Linked DNA regions of Homo sapiens: region 2 is linked to region 1. The links come from fine-mapping of genetic effects on gene expression. A gene starts in region 1. The other region holds a variant in brackets. All regions are shown on one strand. Distances are from middle to middle. Region 1 holds the start of CLEC1B (C-type lectin domain family 1 member B). Region 2 overlaps CLEC12A (C-type lectin domain family 12 member A).

Evidence for each region. PIP is the estimated chance that this variant, and not a neighbour inherited with it, causes the effect. A credible set is the group of variants that fine-mapping cannot tell apart.
Region 2: its variant is the best candidate, but not a certain one, in a credible set for the expression of CLEC1B in whole blood (INTERVAL, PIP 0.68).

What each region holds. Positions count from the first base shown.
Region 1 is chr12:9,997,836-10,000,764 of GRCh38, forward strand. CLEC1B (C-type lectin domain family 1 member B) reads right to left here and starts at 1,286. Exons shown (of 6, transcript NM_016509.4): 1 at 1,202-1,286; 2 at 447-545. The coding sequence starts at 1,265. It also overlaps a transcript of CLEC12A not described here.
Region 2 is chr12:9,975,757-9,978,685 of GRCh38, forward strand. All of the region lies in intron 1 of CLEC12A (C-type lectin domain family 12 member A), which reads left to right. Among named protein-coding and RNA genes, the nearest start is that of CLEC12A, 5.8 kb to the left of the region's middle. The variant G/A (reference allele first, on the strand shown) is at 1,339.

The sequences.
Region 1 (2,929 bases):
AAATGCACAGTAACTTAGTAAACAAAATGAGAAACAGAAAATTTTAGGTAGAGAGAATAGAATGAGAAAAATTTCAGACAAGGGAACATGGAATTTATATATGAAATTGAAAAACTCCAGTTTGGCTGGTTCTTAGGAATGCAAGATAGGAAAAGGGATGAAAAAGTTTTTAAAAATAGTTTGGATCCACACTGAGGAGGGTCTTAAAGGCCAGTAGTACATTCTTAAAAATAACTTTTCATTAGTTAAAATCTTAAAATCTTATTTTAATCACAAGGAAACAGTCAGTGTTCTCCTTTATTGAGATTCTCTTGGCAACTATCTGTAGGACAACTGTAGAAGTGATAAACAGACAAATAGCGACCATTGAGAAGCTTAGTGGGATATGCCATGACCCTTCAGTATTACCTTCCTCCAGTCAAATTTCTGGCAGAGTCAACACTTACACCAAATCCCCAGAGCCACCAGCCCGACAACCATCCCCACGCACAGGATCAGCAGAATCAAAGCCATCACACGCCACCAGGAGGAGGATGCAGAGCCAACTGTAGGCATATAATAAAGACATCAAGGAGCAGGCAGTATGGGTTAGCTATGGGGAAGGCTCACCCCTGCCCCTGCCCCTGCCTTCTCAGGGTCCTCCAAGTAATAGAAAGAGCTTTGCTGGCAGATCTCACCTGTGTTCTCCTCATGATCATCAACAATAGGCATGGCCCACCCCTATACCATACATCCATTCTCATCTCCAATGCACTTTACCTCTCCAAGCTGAAATATTACTTGCTGTTAAGGCCTGATGTGTTTGTATTTTTTGTTTTGTTTTGTTTTGTTTTGTTTTGTTTTATGCTCACCCATGCCATAAATAATTGCTTTAATAAACAGCAAATGAAGAATCACACTCATTTGCTCACATATAGAAAATGAAATTTCCACTCTTTTCCGTTATCCCCTTGACTTCTATGCCCTCGAGTATTAAACGCTCAGAATCTTAATGCAATTTTCCCTGCACATATATTGGATGTTTGTAATCTAAATAGGTCTGTATGAGCTTATGAAAACACTACTCAAATGCTTTAGAGCATTAACATCATTCAAGAAAAAGAAATTAAACTATATATATTATCAATAGTAGAAAAAGAAAGAATTGAATCAACTCATTTTTTAAATTAATTTCCAAATTATTGGCTCTGAGCATTCTTACCGGAGATGAGAGCTGGTTTCCGAGTTTTAATATTTAAGGTGATGTATCCATCTTCATCCTGCATGGCTTCCCGAGTACTGCAACTGAGCTCAGAGTTCAATGACTTTGCAAAATGTAGTTTCCAACTTTACAATTTCAGTATCTGTCAGTTTATGATCTTCCTGTCTTTAGTAGGGTAGAACCATGTGAGATGGGACACATTTGTTTTCCTTTGCTTATTGTTTTCCAGGAAGCTTCTTCATAGCTGCTCAGAGATACATGGACCTTGAACACAAAAACACAAAAATAATAATAACTTGTGGTAAAGGAGTAGATAAGGTATTTGCTTCCTGCTTTTTTTTTATCTTCAACACTAAATAAAGGGACATTCCATCATGTGCATCCTTTCTAAGAACAAAAGTTCATGCTTTATCTTAGCCCTAGCTTAGTCTAAATTACATTGCTCAAATGAGAGATTTCTGCTGAAAATTCATGGATATAGCTCACCAGCAGATATATAGTTTATCTCATTGTGAGAAGCAAGTGTAATATAATTGGATCTGATAGGGGCTAAATTAGCTGTTTCATAGTCTTGTGTTGGAAGAGATCATTCCTGATTATGACCTAGAATTTACACAACTTCTTGCATATTTCATACTTTTTTTTATTTGAAGGATCCACATGAGGCAGGCCTGATATTGCTTAGATTTAGGTATTGAAGGAAAACTATCAAATCAAGTAAAATAATACAGAGTTGGTGACTTGCTGCATTGTTCTTTAGTAGTGTTTGTGCTTTAAAGTGAGTTTCCTGGAATGGAAGAATTTTGATTTGATGAAATCACTTCATTTCAAGTACAGCTGTGCTTAGATGAATATTTGAGACTGAATGGTTCCTAGCACCTTTTCATCACAATATAATATGTATTGCACACACTTAACTTTATGAAATGGGCTTTTACATTATTTTAGCTTGCACTGAAAGTAGTTGTAAGAACAGCCATACAAAGCTAGCTGATGCATTTATTATAGGAATATTGGGGAGGATGTTGTCTATTTTGCCATAGGGTAACTCTTACATAGTTTTATGGCAGATTTTTATTTTTGTTAAATCACCATGACTAGCAAAGCTTTAAGTAGTAGGCATTTACCTTATAAATAATTTGAATTCTATTTTTCTTTACTTAGCAGAGTGTTAGACTTTTCAATATAGTGATTATGTGGGCTGCAGTAGCAGATATTTTGTTTATTAACATGCCCTTTGGCATAGCCCGTAGATTTTTTCTCCCCTGCTATCTCCTTCACTCTGAATTTCTTGTCAATTCACTTAAAATTATCTTTCATTCTAAATTTCTTTCTCTATACTCTTCAAATTATTTTGAGAATGAGGTGAAGAATAAGCATAACACGTATAAAAGACATTCCCTGATTTTGGAAAGCCAAACTTAGTATGATTCAAATATTTTTACCAAAACTAATTCTTAATTAAAAAAAAACACATTTGAAATAAATGCCAAATTTTAAGAAAAGACTAAAAATTTTTAAAAAACATTAAATCCCAACACCATTTTTGTTGCTGTGTTTCTTATCTCAGTTAAAATATTCAGGGGTTCCCAATCATAAGCTGGGTAAATTCAGTCACTTACCATTCATCTACCACTGCTTCTGTTCTCATAACTTCTGTTTCAGCTAAAAGGGATTCTTCGCTCTCCCATCATTTATCCTCAGGCTTTTCTGGAAGATTGGGGTTGG
Region 2 (2,929 bases), 22 kb before region 1:
GAGGTCTTCCCAGCAGCCCCTCCCATCACATGCCCAGAGGCCTAGGAGGAATAAATGGTATTATGGACTGAGCCCAGGGTCCCTCTGCTGTGTGCAGTCTAGGAACTTGGTGCCCTGCATCCCAGCTGCTCCAGCCATGACTAAAAGAGGCTAAGGTACAGCTCAGGTCATGGCTTCGGAGAGGGTGCAAACCCCAAGCCTTGGTAGCTTCCATGTGGTGTTGAGCCTTTGAGTGCACAGAAGTCAAGAGTTGGGTTTTGGGAACCTCTGTCTAGATTTCAGAGGATGTATGGAAATGCCTGGATGTCCAGGCAGAAGTTTGCTGCAGGCATGGGGTGCTCATGGATAACCTCTGCTAGGACAGTGCAGAAGGGAAATGTGAGGTCAGAAGCTCCACACAGAGTCCCCACTGGGGTACTGTCCAGTGGAGCAGTGAGAAGTGGACCACCGTCCTCCAGCTCTCAGAATGGTAGATCCACTGACAGCATGCACTGTCCACTTGGAAAAGCTGCAGACACTCAATATCAGCCCATGAAAGCAGCCATGAGGGAGACTGTACCTTGCAAAGCCACAGGAGCAGAGCTGCCCAAAGACATGGGAGCCTACCTCTTGCATCAGCATGACCTGGATGTGAGATATAGAGCCAAAGGAGATGATTTTGGAGCTTTAAGATTTGGTGCCCTTTGGACTTGCATGGGGCCTGTAGCCCCTTTGTTTTGGCCAATTTCTCCCATTTGGAATGACCGTATTTATCCAATGCCTGTACTCTCATTGTATCTAGGAAGTAACTAACTTTCTTTTGAATTTACTGGCTCATAGGTGGAAGGGACTTGCCTTGTCTCAGATGGACTGTGGACTTTTGAGTTAATGATGAAATGAGTTAAGTCTTTTGGGGACTGTTGGGAAGGCATGATTGGTTTTGAAATGTGAGACATGAGATTTGGGAGAGGTCAGGGTGGAATGATATGGTTTGGCTGTGTCCACACCCAAATCTCATCTTGAATTATAGCTCCCACAATTTCCACGTGTTGTTGGAGGGACCTCGTGGGAGGTAATTGAATCATATGGTAGGGGTGTTTCTCGTGCTGTTCCTGTGATAGTGAATAAGTGTCATGAGATCTGATGGTTTTATAAAGGGGAGTTTCCCTGCACAAGTTCTTTCTTCTCTTGTCTGCTGCCATATGAGGTGTGCCTTTCACCTTCCACCATGATTGTGAGGCCTCCCCAGCCGCGTGAAACTGTGAATCCATTAAACCTCTCTTTCCTTATAAATTGCCCAGTCTTGGGTATGTCTTATTAGCAATGTGAAAATGGACTAATACACATGCTAACCCTAAA[G/A]ATGGTGTTTTGCTTTTTATCACTATGAGATACTGCCTACAAATGTGCATATCTACCAACTTTCTCTAAAGAAAAATTTCAGAAATTTTTGCAATAGATTTTAGCTTAGAAATGTATACTTAATTTATCCATGGGTCATCAAATTCCCTAGTACTAGCTAGTCAAACTTCTGTTCTCTTTCACATGTCATACTGTAACAGATTTCTTACTGATAAAACAACTCTGTTATTTTGCCCTCCTAGATTAAATTCTTCCAGTGGTTTCCCCAAAAATCTAACTTATTCTGGCTAGAAAAGGCTGTAAATAATGTCTCCTCCTTGTTATTTTAAAAACAAAACAAAAGAAAACAAATAAAACCTTTAACATCATTTTTCACATTGGCCACAATTCTTCTGCCCCTCTGAATATATTCTGTTTTTCAAATAGAAATCTTTTCCTTAAATTATTGTCTTTGAACTTCATGTAATTGCTACCTGTAATGTTCTTCCTACTTATTTTGCATGCTGGTTCCTATTCATAAGATTTGAACTGCCTGCTCTCTATAACAGCTTAGTTTTAAATCTCTGCACAACATCGCCAAATTTGAGATCTTTTCTCCCTTTCTTTCTTTCTCCCTGTCTCACTTATATATCTATTTATCTATTTCCTCCTACAATTAAAATTTATAGCTGTGAAAACAGGAACTTGTACATCTTGCTCACTTTGATATTGTTAGCACCCAGGATAATGTCTAATAAATACAAGGCACTCAAAAGATAACTTTTGAATAATTGAACTTTTTAATAATTGAATAAGTTCATTGAATAAATAAACTTGAATAATTGAATACACATATAAATAAGAAAATAATTTTAAGAAAGATAGCACTGGCATTTATAATTCTAATCTTAGATAAAATCTTGAACATGTAGTTCTTTCAGTAGTAACTATTTTCTAAAGTCTATATAAGTTAAGTTTTACTATTTATTAGTAATTGTCTCTGGATTTCACAATATTATTGCACCATCAACTATGAGATGTAAGACATAGCTCAGAAGTATAGTGAGATTATTATGGTATCCCTGAATTGGATTTTCTTGAAATATCTAGCTAGTCTTTACCTAATGTATAATAGCTTTATACATAATGATGATTTAAATAACATAGTCACAATAATAATTCACTCACAAAGTTTATAATTCCTGTTTTTTTTTTAAATAGAGAAATGATCTATTCTGGGCTTCACTATTCATTAAAAAGGAAGTATTCAATAAAAGTTTCTTGCAAAAACACATGAAAATTTTTTTGAAAAATTGCAATAAAAATGGTGTAGATCTGGACTGATTAAGATCAAAAGCTAACGGGAGGACACCCAAAGACATTATGAAAAGACAGCCTATCTTGTTCATTCTGCAGCTAAATTCTCATAATTGCCTGGGGGGATACATAAACAACTGAAACTGTTTTTCTTGACATGCCACAATTGTCTACTCAAGCAAAGACTTCTCCTATTGGCTTCTCTGTTAATTTCCAGCTACTCACTTTTCCCAAATTTGTACAAACAAAATACACTATATCTAGGTTGACTGGTTTTCTCCATTCTCTATTATAA